Homo sapiens: one gene and its partners. Changing the gene in region 4 together with the main gene of any one other region gives a genetic interaction. Each region holds a gene or a part of one and is shown on either strand. Other genes may lie near its edges.

Evidence for each region. Genes that interact genetically often act in the same process or in processes that back each other up.
Region 1: changes in CIT (region 4) and SCO1 together harm fitness more than expected from each alone (negative genetic interaction), as found in Homo sapiens cells (one large-scale study listed by BioGRID).
Region 2: changes in CIT (region 4) and EIF3H together harm fitness more than expected from each alone (negative genetic interaction), as found in Homo sapiens cells (one large-scale study listed by BioGRID).
Region 3: changes in CIT (region 4) and EDA together harm fitness less than expected from each alone (positive genetic interaction), as found in Homo sapiens cells (one large-scale study listed by BioGRID).

What each region holds. Positions count from the first base shown.
Region 1 is NC_000017.11:10,684,034-10,687,533, reverse strand, and holds part of SCO1 (protein SCO1 homolog, mitochondrial), read left to right. Parts: intron 1-691; coding exon 692-807; intron 808-3,500. UniProt on the Homo sapiens protein: Copper metallochaperone essential for the maturation of cytochrome c oxidase subunit II (MT-CO2/COX2). Not required for the synthesis of MT-CO2/COX2 but plays a crucial role in stabilizing MT-CO2/COX2 during its subsequent maturation.
Region 2 is NC_000008.11:116,745,824-116,749,323, forward strand, and holds part of EIF3H (eukaryotic translation initiation factor 3 subunit H), read right to left. Parts: intron 1,304-3,500; exon of another isoform or gene 1-1,303.
Region 3 is NC_000023.11:70,025,113-70,028,612, forward strand, and holds part of EDA (ectodysplasin-A), read left to right. Parts: intron 1-2,744; coding exon 2,745-2,924; intron 2,925-3,500. UniProt on the Homo sapiens protein: Cytokine which is involved in epithelial-mesenchymal signaling during morphogenesis of ectodermal organs. Functions as a ligand activating the DEATH-domain containing receptors EDAR and EDA2R. May also play a role in cell adhesion.
Region 4 is NC_000012.12:119,867,321-119,870,820, reverse strand, and holds part of CIT (citron Rho-interacting kinase), read left to right. Parts: intron 1-1,619; coding exon 1,620-1,761; intron 1,762-3,500. UniProt on the Homo sapiens protein: Plays a role in cytokinesis. Required for KIF14 localization to the central spindle and midbody. Putative RHO/RAC effector that binds to the GTP-bound forms of RHO and RAC1. It probably binds p21 with a tighter specificity in vivo.

The sequences.
Region 1 (3,500 bases), on a different chromosome or scaffold from region 4:
ACCTTTAGAAAAAGGAACTGCTGTTAAATGTTGGGCTGTCATTTCAGTAGTTTGATGAATCCAGTTGTTTTAAGTGACCTCTACCGGTTCACTTACATGAATTCCAAAAACTTAATAGCAGATACACGCTGTGAATGATTTGCCCTTATTTCAGAACTTTGTTAAGATTGCGTTTTGGGGATGACTAGTATTAATTAACCAGTTTTTTTAAATCAGAAGTAAAGAGTAGAACTTGATACCAGTGTTGAAATTATTTGCAGGAAAATAAGACACAGGTATTTTGACCTGATATGAACTTAGTTATGAAGCAAATTTTTTTCCCCATATGATGCCATGAAAAGTTATAGTATTTAATTTATGATAATAATTTTAAGCTTTAGTATATCTGAGAACTACATGTGACTACTCCTTAAAAATCAATTTAAAATGTGATACAAGTGATTAGAAAATATTCCCTCCAGGTCTTTACTAGATAGTCATAAAAAGATTTGACTTATATATTACAAAGGAGAATTTTCATTTGTTCTTTGTGAATTTCTTCTCCTTTTCCTTTGAATCGTGAAGAAATGTTTGGAGACTCACAGGAAGAAAGTGGCAGTAGAGCTGCTTTACAACTGATACATTTTTTGAAGTAGAGATGGTTGTTTTACTGGCTTCTCATTTTTCACTGTCTCTCTCATTTTTTATTTAGAATTTTCTCCCAAACTGGTTGGCTTGACTGGCACGAGAGAAGAGGTCGATCAAGTGGCCAGAGCATACAGAGTGTATTACAGCCCTGGCCCCAAGGACGAAGATGAAGACTACATAGTGAGTAAATGTTCCAGTTTTAACCCATGGACCAGCTCCCAGATCCCAAATAGTCATAAGGCTTTCAATGACTGACTAGCTTCTGAGAAGAGAGAATACCTAAGATTATTGCAAAGTCCTTAGGAATTTTTTTTTTTTTTTTTTTGAGATGGAGTCTCATTCTGTCATCCAGGCTGGAGTGCAGTGGCACAATCTTCGCTCACTGCAACCTCCGCCTCCCAGATTCAAGCAATTCTCCTATGTCAGCCTCCCGAGTAGCTGGGATTACAGGTGCGCGCCACCACACCTGGCTACTTTTTTATATTTTTTGGTAGAGACGGGGTTTCACCACGTTGGCCAGGCTGGTCTCGAACTCCTGACCTTACCCGCCTCAGCCTCCCAAAGTACTGGGATTACAGACGTGAGCCACCGCATCCAGCCTCCTTAGGAATTTTGAATATTTGAAAGGATAATAGAAGCATGTTTTTTACTTTTTATTTATTTTCGAGACGGAGTCTCACTCCGTCAGCCAGGCTGGAGTGCAGTGGTGCGATCTTGGCTCACTTCGACCTCCGCCTCCCGGATTCAAGCAATTCTCCTCCCTCAGCCTCTCGCGTAGCTGGGATTACAGGCATGTGCTCCCACGCCTGGCTAGTTTTTGTATTTTTAGTAGAGAAGGAGTTTTGCCATGTTGGCCAGGCGAGGCCAGGGGGTCTCGAATTCCTGACCTCAGGTGGTCTGCCCTGCCCACCTCAGCCTCCCAAAGTGCTGGGATTACAGGCCTGAGCCACTGCGCCCAGCCAGAAGCAGTTTTTTAAAAGATGATTGTTTGATTTATATTCACTGTTCTCATAATTCAATTGCCTGTTTTTCTCTTATAGTGGCATATAGGATTTTAGGGCAGTTTAAAACCAGATACTTGGGTGCCATGTTGGAAATAAAGAGAAGCCATCATTTGGAACAACACTTATTTTAAAAAGATTGTGTTGGTTCTCACTGTGTCCCCAGTAGAGGTATCAGAAATTGCTCTTCTGGAGAACCAGTTTTAGGCCATGGAGAACTGCATTTTTAGGTTGAATGAGAATTCTGAAAAGCAAAAGATGAAAGGTTTATTTGCCCATTGACTATATGCCTTGGACAGTTAGGCGTTAAATATGTGCTTTTTAATGATAAGGAACAGAAATTCTGTTGTACTTGTGTAGCTCTTAAATTAACTATCTTCATATTCATCAGCACTGCCCCAGAAGCCTTAAGGTCATGCCCAAGTTACTGTGTTTCTTTTCTTGTCAGTGGTTTCACAGTGAAGCACCAAAAGGCATTAGCACCACCACTATCCACCAATTTTCCTCTCAATTTGGACATTTTTCTCCTATCATATGAAGAGTCGGCGTTGTATTTTAGCATTATTTCAGTATTTTTCTTAGTTGTCATACTCTGTTTTTTCTATAATATTGTTTGGGCAGAGTAATCCTAAGAGCCTTTCTAGCTGTGAAGCTGTCTTTGTAGAAAGAAAGATGGCCAAGACCCTGAGTCACTGATCCAGCAGCTCCCCATGGCCCATCCCAAGAGTTGAGATGCAGAGGGGATGGGATGTCTCACTGCAGTGCTTTGTCTCAACAGCCAACTATGATTTCTTTGTCCCTTTGAACCTGGAACGTGTGTGCCCCTGGAGCCTACAGCCTGAATTAAAAGCAAGGTTCTGGCCTGTTTGCCTTAATTAAGCCTACACAGTAATCCTGTCTTCCAGATGTGGTGCCTCGTAGAATTAGGGAAACTTGGATTCCTTGGAGTAAAAGATGAGAAAAATGAGCACTTTTCTTTAAGCCTTAATTGTAAGGAAAGTAGAGGGACCCTCCTCTGTTTTCCTCTTGCTGCTTCTCTAGCAGAATGAGAGAAGAGCAGAGAGCCACAGTGGCCAAAAGAGGAAACCATAGGAAAAGGACTTTCCGGACTTCTGTCTTTATAGAGAGTTGTATTAACTGGTTTTGAGTTTATCCGATGATGACAGCAGGAATAGATGAGCTCATCAGTCTGATTTCCAGCATTAAATGAGTTATATTAAATTGTTTAAATGTATACAGTCCTAAACTAGGTAACACTCCATAGTCTTGATGCTTAGAACTCATAACTCAGAGTCAGAAAGTCAAATCAGAAAGCAGTTGTACAAATAAACCCAAACAGCCTGCAAAACTTAAATTGAAAACATTCAGTTACATTGACAAGAGATTTTGCTGAAACCAAAGTGCTGCTCAGGGCAAGAAGGGAGGGGGTTTTGGTCAGACTGCTATCACATACCCAACTCTACTCAACTGCCCCTCTGCATTTTCTATTTAAAATACTTTGAAACCTTTAATCGTGTAGCCTGCCTTGCCTGGTTAGTGTTGATTTGGCAAGAATGTATCATATTCATGTCTGCCTGTAACAGCAGTGGGCAGCTAGGTGCCAGTGAGATCATGGAGCAAACACAAGCCTGGGCACTGAAATTTATACTCACAACACAGATAATCCAGAATATGGATATTAATGTTTTTAATTACAAATGAAAACAAAAATATGTAAGTCTTATGGAAACTTCTTGGACCTTGTAGAATGTATCTTTGGCCCCATTTTGAGAAATACTGGCCTACTGCCATAAGAATTTGACTTTTGATGAGATTCGATGAGGAATTCATGCTGTACATTTGCTAAATCATCCAATAGGGGGAGACATTCTT
Region 2 (3,500 bases), on a different chromosome or scaffold from region 4:
GGCACGAGAATCGCTTGAACCTAGGAGGTGGAGATCACAGTGAGCCAAGATCGGGCCACTGCACCCCAGCCCGGTCGACAGAGCAAGACTCTGTCTCAAAGGAAAAAAAAAAAAGGAAAAGTCAGATGGACTTAGAATTACCACCCAATGCAGGTAAACTAACTTACTTAGGGACACGTACCAGTACTCTTCCCAATGCTCCTTAATATGCTGATTTTCTTTACTATTGATCCCCAGTATCTTAATATGTGAACTCAGCAGTTTAAGGTTGCATTTTTCCAAACTTCAGAATATTTACTAAATTGACTTCTTATAGCTACAAATCTTCTACAATATGACTGATTATCAAACGTAAAGATTCTAATGTATGTTTTCTCATACATTTTAAAGTTAGAAGTCTGTAAGACACCTGAGTTCTGAAAAACATATTTCCCAATGCTCAAACAAGAAGCACTAGATTAACTATTCTGTACACACCTTAACTTCTATTTCCTCCATCTGTACATTAATCAAATCACATAAACTATTTGTACCCACGTCTCCCCATTGATAAAATAGGGATAATGATGGTTCCTATATCAAAGAGTTGTTGTATTGCTTCAATGCCATAATAAATACACAATACTTAAAACAGTACCTGTCACATAACACAGAATAACTACTGGGGTCTTCAAGTATATGAAGCTGCTATAAAATGTAAAAGAAAATGAGTCAAGGATGGCTAGATGTGATCTGAATTCAAGCTCCAGGATATATTCACTTTATGTCTTTGAAAAGCCACCCAGCTTCTTGGAGTGGGAGAATCACATGTATAATCCAGATAATACTAGTCCGCCCAGTTCCTGGAGCTACCAAGATATAATAATGTACGCTAAATGATTTTTCTATTATAAAAAGTTACTATTTGTAAGCAATAACATCTTACTTGCCTAAGCAAAAAATATAACTAAGCAATCAAAATGTCAGACTGCATAACGAATTTAATCCTCACTCACAAATACTCAGGTTAGAGATAATCCTGCATAACTGGTTTTTCACTCACAGCAAAAAAAAACCTGAAAAGCAAGGGGATAAGAAACAGATAAATTTAACAACCAAAAAAGGCACCAACTAGAAACATAAACCACTCAAGGCACCTAAAGTTCAACAACAGGGGACATTTATTATAGAAATAACAGACTACCCGAAGGGATTTCTTGACAGATCTACTGTCCTGTCTGGTTCAATAACATGTTTTTTTGTTTTTTTGTTTTTTTTGAGACAGAGTCTCTGCCTGTCGTCCAGGTTGGAGTGCAGTGGTGTGATCTCGGCTCACTGCAACCTCTGCCTCCCAGGTTCAAGCAGTTCTCCTGCCTCAGCCTCCTGAGTAACTGGGATTACAGGCATCCGCCATCATGCCCGGCTAATTTCTTTTGTATTTTTAGTAGAGATGGGGTTTCGCCATGTTGGCCAGGTTGGTCTCGAACTCCTGACCTCAGGTGATCCGCCCACCTCAGCCTGCCAAAGTGCTGGGATTACAGGCGGGAGCACGGCCCAATAACATGTTCTTAATGATAATACTATGCCATCAAAACATGGTTAGATTGTGTTCCATGTTCTCTGACTAAAGCAGCAGAAAATTATGTATTACACTTCAGAAACACATATAATTAAAATAGCTAAAATGTGCAAGTTTTGGTGCTTGAAAGGATTTCAAATTATCTGACTGAAAAAATTATCTCACATGTCAAACAACTTACGTATGCACCACTCAAGTCAGAAAACTGGAAGAAGAGGCCAAGGGTCATATAATTTTTTTTGTTGTTAAAACATTAAAAGGCCAAACTGTATTATACTTCAGACCAGGATCTCAGAGAAGAGCTTCCATTTCAATGGAATTTAAACAAGCTGTTGTCCAGTCTCTTTAAATTCATAAGAGTATCACAAAAAATCTACAGTGACACATGTGATAGCCTGGCATTACAAATTCGAAGTATTTGATTCAACTCACAAAGCATTCCCACCAGCCTGCTGCGGTGGCTCACACCTGTAATCCCAACATTTTGGGAGGCCAAGGTGGGTGGGTCACCTGAGACCAGGAGTTCGAGACCATCCTGACCAACATGGTGAAACCCCGTCTCTACTATAAATACAAAAAATTAGCCAGGCGTGGTGGCGCATGCCTGTAATCCCAGCTACTTGGGAGGCTGAGACACGAGAATCGCTTGAACCTGGGAGGCGGAGGTTGCAGTGAGCCAAGATCCACTTGAACCTGGGAGGCAGAGGTTGCAGTGGGCCAAGATCATGCCATTGCACTCCAGCCTGGGCAACAAGAGCAAAACTCTGTCTCAAAAACAAAAAAAAAAACAAAAACAAAACAAAACAAAATAAAAAACAAAGTACTTCCACCAAAATTTTTCCATTAGATTTGAATAACCATCAGGTAGGTAAGGTAGTGATAACATTTATCCCCAAAGCTGTTGTGAGGATCACAACATCTAAAATTTAACAAAAAATTTAACCAAACAACACAAAATTTAACCAAACATCCCTGTACAGGGTCTTATAATAGGTGTCCAATTAATATTAGTGATTTTTCAAACAGATAAGAAATCAACAAATAAAAAGATGGAGAAATATGAACAAGCCCAGAAAGCTAACTAGCTTATCCTCAACTGTGTGCTCTTTTCTCACCAACACTCAAGCATTTACTAACCCAGTTTCTTCATGATTGATTTTCAAGAAAATTTCCACACAACAGGAGTATATTCATTCATTCACAACATCTGAGTGCCTTCTATACACGAGGTACTGTTCTAGACCCTTAGAAATACTGTAGTGAACAAACCTGACATGGGTGCCACTTTCAGGAAGCTGATATTCTAGTGTGAAGAAATAAGCAACAAGTAAAAAGAGTTTCAGACAGAAACAAGGACCAAACTGGATACCAAAATTCGCAGATGCTCAAGTCCTTTATATAAAATGGTGTAGCATTAGTTATTGCATATAACCTAGGCACATCTTCCTATATATCATCCCTAGATTGCATATAACATTTAATACAATGTAAATGCTATGTAAATAATTATTATACTGTATTGGTTTTTATTTGTATTTTTAGTTGTTTTTTTCCTAGTATTTTCGATCCATGGTTGGTTGAATCCATGGATGTGAGATTGCTGGATTCAGAATCCAAAGATATAGAGAGCTGACTGTATATGTAACTCATACTTTTCTATTTATTAATAACATACTCTACCTTACTTACAAAACCAGGGGAATAAGGTATCTAATAAGATAACTTAAAGGGGAAAACAAAATTTAAAAGGTAAGAAATTTCAATAGCAATGGGTTTCAAGCACTGAATTATGGAGGAGACAAATGTTTTATACTTCAGCCTTCAAAAGGGTTATCATCTCAATGAGAAGGGGAAAATATATTAACAGTAAATCACTAACAGTATGGATCACATACCAAGGTGAATGATACAAGCTGTCATTAAAAAGCTCAGAGAAAGGAAG
Region 3 (3,500 bases), on a different chromosome or scaffold from region 4:
ACTGGAACAAAGCAGGAGTTTTTTTTTTTCTCAAATGCCTTCTAACATTTTCATAAGTGAACATTCTCTGTTTTCACTGCAACCATTAGTCTCTTGGACTGGAGGAGTTTCTGGCTCTAATTCTTCCAAAATTACATTAGCAATTACAGGAGACTCACATTCTTGAAGGTGAAGTTTGTGCTACCCACAGAACACCCTCTAGCTTGAAAATCACTGTTAGGCTTGGAAATCTTGGAACACAGGACAGCCTAATATGCACCAACTTCTGTGTCTGTGCCACCTAGAAAATAAGGAGGGAGAAGCAAACCTTACAACCAGGCTAAGAAAGCTTCCTGACTGCAAGGGGTAAGCCACCCCTCCTTATAGAAACTCAGTCTCATGAGGAAACAGAGAAATCATTGAGGCCAAGCTCCTTGTTTCACAGATGTAGAAACTAAGGCTCAAGGAGAGGAAGGGATTTGCCCAAAGTGTGTCTGTGGCAGAGCTGGGGCTTACATCCTTATCTCCTGAGTACAGATTTTGTGTTCTTTCCACTACACTAGCTGGAATTGAAACTTGGGCTCTGAATAAGCCTGATTTGGAAGCTGCCCAAATCTGAAAGGAGATGGTTTTCCTGTTCAGCATCTTGAAATTGGCTAGATCTAGAAACGGGGCAGATCCAATCTTTTGCTGCTAAGTGCAGAGAAACCTCTAAAGCTCATGCCTCTAGGTCTTTAAGGCTACAGGGACTCTTCTGGGAGAGATGTTCTCTGGACCTTCCTTTCCTTCCTTTCTGAGGAAGAGACCCCACGATGACCCCATGGTTTCATTCCAAATGCAGATGTGGTTAGACATAGACAAATGGCCTCTTGAGTGGCATTGCCATGAGGATTGGGTTTCTTGGCCATGAGGCATTGTTCTTAAGGGAGGACCTGATAAATCAGGACAAGATTCTCCTGCCTAAGTGTCTGGGGAGCAAGAAGTCAGAGTCAGTAAGAAGGTTTTTAGTGAGACTAGAGAAGGTTGTATTTAAAACTAAGAAACTACCTCAGGTGAAGACATTGTGATGAAGTCTGGAAACAGGCTTCCATTCCTGAAACTTTCCATAAAATTGTGAGAAGGTGGTGAAGGAAGGAAGAAGACCTGTGCCTACATGTAGTCTTTGAGTGGAGCTGCACAGAGCAGAGGAAGTCAACAGGAAGAGCTGGAGGTTTTGGTTCAAGACCACAGTTATGACTCATTTAAGATAACTACATCCTGGTGGGAATGTTGAAAGGACTGGAATATGAAATAGGAGGGTCGAGATTGTTCTAGAAGGATAGCAAGGAGGAAAGGGGGAAGAGTTGGTGGGCATGATTAATAATACATTTGAGAATGGGACTTCTGAGGAAAGACTTTGGGAAGCTGGATTATTTAGCCTATAGAAATAGGGGTTGGTGGGTAACTTAATTTCTTTTCATATATAAGGATTATTATGTATATGTATATTCTTCTCTGTCTACACAAATAGAATAAGAGCTTAAACTGCCACAAGAGGGACATCATTTAATATACCAGAGAACTTCCTAACAGTGAGCAGTGAGGGGCAATAAACATTGGAACATGTTACTATGGAGTTTGCAGAATTTCCTTTCCCAGAGATCTTTTAAAATAGAGTTTACAGAGGTCAGCTGAGAGAGTGAAACTTGCTGCCTCCTCCTCAGCTCCCTCTACTCTCTGTCTCTGCTTCTTTCCTGTTTCTCAATATCTCTCTCTCTCCCTCCTCCTCTTTCCGTGCCCCTCTTCCTCCTTCTCCATTCCCCCATCTCCAAAACTCCTTCCCATTCCTCATTCCCGACTAGCACTGTCCCCATCCCAACCCCCATTTCCTGTACATCCTGACTCCTGGAGGAACCTTCCTGGAGCTGATACTGTTCCTAAGGCCAGGCTGTACGGCTTCCTCTTGTTATCGACATCAAGTCCACCAAACTGGGCAGTAAACATAAAAGCTCCACATTCTTCAACAATAGCCCTTTCTAAAAAGAACCACAAAGTGACCCATAGGTCTAATCACTTGGTAGAGAAATTCTCATCCTTTGGACTCAGCTGAAATGTAACCTCCTTTTTGAAACCTTCTCTGACCTCTTCAGCATTTGGTCCCTACCCACTAAGGTAGCACTTCTACTATCCCATGACTGTGTCTGTTTCCCCACAGACACAGACTGATCTCCTGGAGGGCCACTTATTTCTATATGCTCAAACCTAGCTTTGTAAATGCATATTCACAAAAGGGAGTGGGGGGAGGGGAGAGAAAGCATAAGACAGACGGAGACAGGGAGACAGAGATGTGTGATAAAGGTATCCAACTCTTTAGCAGGGCCTCCCAGAGAGCTGACTTTGTGTCCTCAGAAGTCTGTAGAACTCCTGACAGTACACTCATCACAGGAAATAACTACAAATGTAACACTGAGGCCAGGCGCGGTGGCTCACGCCTGTAATCCCAGCATTTTGGGAGGCTGAGGCAGGCAGATCACCCGAAGTCAGGAGTTTGAGACCAACCTGGCCGACATGGTGAAACCCCGTCTCTACTAAAAATACAAAAATTAGCAGGTCGCGGTGGCACGCGCCTGTAATCCCAGTTACTCCAGAGGCTGAGGCAGGAGAATCGCTTGAACCCGGGAGGTGGAGGTTGCAGTGAGCCGAGATCGTGCCACTGAACTCCAGCCTGGGCAACAGAGCAGGACTCCGTCTCAAAAAAAAAAGTAACACTGAATCCTATTTTTCAGGAAAGAAAGCAGGACCTCCTGGACCCAATGGCCCTCCAGGACCCCCAGGACCTCCAGGACCCCAGGGACCCCCAGGAATTCCAGGGATTCCTGGAATTCCAGGAACAACTGTTATGGGACCACCTGGTCCTCCAGGTCCTCCTGGTCCTCAAGGACCCCCTGGCCTCCAGGGACCTTCTGGTGAGTTCCCCTGTCTCTCCACCCCACCAGGTGCCTTTAAAGTACTTTAGGAGAGCAGGAGTGGGTGATCCTGAGAGCAGTTTCAAACGGTGGAGATGGGGTTGGTGTGCAATAAGGGATGCAGATCTCCTAGCCCAGTGTAAAACTAGGAATTGGACAAGCCAGTAGGGCCTGGCCTGCTCTAGCTTCTTATATCTACCAAACTGTCAAGGACAGGCCACCTGTTCTTGCCCCATCTCAACCCTTCTGTTACAAGCCCTCCCTGACTCTTGGCCTCCCTGTAGTGGACCAGTAAAACTCATATGAGCCAGAGACAGAGGCCCTGGTGGTTCACAGGAGTTCCAGTGGGGAATAGATGTAATCTTCTGTGATTCCCAGCATCTAGCTCCACATGCTGATGTTTGCATAGAAATAGGCTATGGAGTAGAAAGTTGAGGACTGAACAAAATGACAAGCCCTAGGATAGTTTCATCTTGTGAAGTCTGAAGTGCTTTTCCCATAGCAAGTAGTCACTAATGGTCAAGAAGTTAGAAACTTAAGAGTCACTCAGGCTGTGGATGAAGCAAACCCAGGCAC
Region 4 (3,500 bases):
TAAGTAATAAATATTTTAGGCTTTGTGGGTCCTGTAGTCTCTGTTGCAACCACTCAACTTGGCCATGGTAGCACAAAAGCAGCTAAAGACAATATGTAAATGATGGGTGTAGCTGTGTTCCAGTAAAACTTATAAAAAGTCCGTGGGCTGGATTTGGTCCAAGGGCTACAGATTGCACACCCCTGGTCTAGCCCAAGCATCTGTGCATGGTGGCTGGCTTCCCAAAAGTGGAAGCTGCTAAGCTGCCTTTTTTTTTTTTTTTTTTTTTTTTGAGAGGGAGTCTCACTGTGTTGCCTAGGCTGGAGTGCGGTGGTGTGATCTCGGCTCACTGCAACCTCCATCTCCCGGGTGCAGGCAATTCTCATGCCTCAACCTCCCAGGTAGCTGGGATTACGGGTGCCTACCACCACGCCTGGCTAATTTTTGTATTTTGGTAGAGACAGGGTTTCACCATGTTGGCCAGGCTGGTCTCAAACTCCTGACCTCAAGTGATCCACCCGTCTTGGCCTCCCAAAGTGCTGGGATTACAGATGTGAGCCACCGTGTCTGGCCGCTTGACAAGCTTCTTAAAGGCACTGCCCTGAACTGGCACAGTGTCACTTGTGTCACATTCTTTTGGTTGAAGAGAGTCTCAGAGATGGCACAGATTCAAAGGCAGGAGAAATAGACTCCAGCGCTTAAAGTAAGGAGTAGCATGTGCCTACAGAATTGGAGGAACTGTTGGAGGCCATCTTTGAAGAGAGACCACCACTATCCATGGCTTGGCACGTGGGAATCACTGCTCTATACCAGGGTTGCAGACTCATGTCTTTGGGGGCCAGGCAGTGAGTATAAATGAGTCAAGTGGGCCAGTTGGAAGATGGAGTCAGACCTGCAGTGAACTCCCAAACACATCTGCTACCGGGAGGGGCAGCATTACTCAGCTCCAGCTCAGCGTCATCAGGCAGGAAGGCGAGGCAGTGTTGCCGGATGTGCCAGTGTTTCAAAAGAAGCCAGAGACTCCATTTTTATTTTTTTGTATGGAATCTCCTGATTTTGAAATATTGGCAGATAATTCAAATTATCTTAAACACTACAGGCCAAACAAAACATATCTGTGGGCTAGAGACAGTCTGCCAGTTTGTAACTATTTCTCCAGATCATGAGTAAATTTGGCTTTACGATGGTCACTCAGTTCTTATTACTCTAGGTTGTTCAAATGAATTAAAAAAGCTGAAATTATATGAATAAACCCCTGGGCACACATGAAAGAAGTGAAAAACCCATTGTTTCCTATTGTAGAAACATGGAAGCATGTCAGAGCCAGAGGATCCAGAGGAAATATTCTCACTAGCCTCAGACCCTCAGGAGTGAGGGAGCTTTTCTTGTTAATGGCCACGCTTGTGCAGTTTTCCTTCCCAGGTGCTGGTGAAAGAAACCCACAGTCTTGGAATCATGGAAGTGATACCATAATGACTGTCAGTTGACGTTGCTTTAAAGAATGAAGCCACAGAATTGTGCTGTTAGCATGTCGTGAGCAGTTAGTTGAGTTGGTGGCTTGTAATTTACTCTGTGTGGATGTTATTGATCAAAGCTTTTCATTATTGACAGTGTCTCCATCTGCTGTTTGCTGTTTTTAGGGGAAACCACCCTTTATGACTCAACAGCAGATGTCTCCTCTTTCCCGAGAAGGGATATTAGATGCCCTCTTTGTTCTCTTTGAAGAATGCAGTCAGCCTGCTCTGATGAAGATTAAGCACGTGAGCAACTTTGTCCGGAAGTGTAAGTTTGGGGAACTTTTTCTTGAAAACTGTCCTGAGAGAGAAAAACTAGAAAGATGCTTGAGGCAGAATGAGTTACTGGTTGATAGTAGTCGGTAAGAACTCTGGTTCTATATAAGACAGATCCAGGTTCAAATTCAGGCTGCACCTCTTATAGCTGGGAGACCAGGTAAGTTGGGCTTCTTGGTTGCAAGCGACAAACTTAATTCAAAGACTGAATTTAGGCCAGGTGCAATGGCTCATACCTATAATCTCAGCCCTTTGGGAAGCTGAGGTGGGTGAATCGCTTGAGCCCAGGAGTTCAAGACCAGCTTGGGCAACATGGTGAAACCCCATCTCTACAAAAAATACAAAAATTAGCTGGGTATGGTGGCTTGCACCCGTGGTCCCAGCTGCTGAGGAGGCTGAGGTGGGAGGATCACTGGAGCCCGGGAGGTTGAGGCTCAATGAGCTGTGATTGTGCCATTGCACTCCAGTCTGGGTGACAGAGTGAGACCCTGTGTGAATAAAAGAGTGAATTTATTGGCTCATGAAACTGAGAAATCCAGGAATGAGTTAAGTTTTAGCTTTAGGCATAGCTAGTTCCAGAGACCTCAATAATATCCCGTGGCCCTGTCCTTATACTCACTCAGGGCTGACTTTCTATTAGGCAGAGTAGGCACGGTGCTTAGGATCTGTGATATTTAATTTTAATGAATTTAATTACTTTTAATTAACTGAATTAAATTTTAATTTGTTTTAAAATTATAGGAAAAATGAATATAATAATGTATAATGATTCTGGATTACATTCATCTTTATACTAATGTAGTCATAAAATATAATTTTTGTTTTTTTTGGAGACAGAGTCTTGCCCTATTACCCAGGCTGGATTGCAGTGGTATATCATGGCTCACTGCAGTTTCAACCTTCTAGGCTCAAGCAATCCTTCCACCCCAGTGGCTGGGACTACAGGCTCACACTACCACGCCCAGCTAATTTTTGCTTTTTTCTCTGTAGAGATAGGGTCTTACTATGTTACCCAGGCTGGTTTCAAACTCCAGGCTTGAAGCAGTCTTCCTGCCTCAGCCTCCCAAAGCTTTGGGATTACAGGTGTGAGCCACCATGCCTGGCCCCATAAAATATAATTTTTGAATTCTTTTTTGTTTTTAATGGAGGAAGGGGCTGAGGAAGGCAAAAGTACCTAGGGCCTATGAAGTCATATATTGGCCTTGCCTTCACCCTGTTTCTGACTTTGCTTGACTTCCATGTGATGAGGCAGTTGGCTGTTAGTGTCCCAGTTTCATACTCTTACATTAGTGTTTTTCAACCAGTGGGTGATTTGACGTTTTCGGTTGTCAGAGCTAGTTGGGGGTGGTGGTGTGTGAGTTTGGGGGGAAGGGTCCTACTGTCAGTTAATGGGTGAGGCCAGAGATGCCACCAAACACCTTACAGTGCACAAAGCAGCCCCCATAACACAGAATTATGTAGCCCACAATGCCAACAGTGCTGAATTTGAGAAACCCCACCTTGTACAACATTGCTGTGCAACCAACCACCCTAAATATTACTGACTTAAAACAATAGTCACTGTGGCTGGGCGCGGTGGCTCATGCGTGTAAGCCCAGCGCTTTGGGAGGCTGAGGCGGCGGATCACTTGAGGTCAGGAGTTCCAGACCAGCCTGGCCAACATGGTGAAACCTTGTCTCTACTAAAAATACAAGAATTAGCTGAATGTGGCAGCGGGCGCCTGTAATCCCA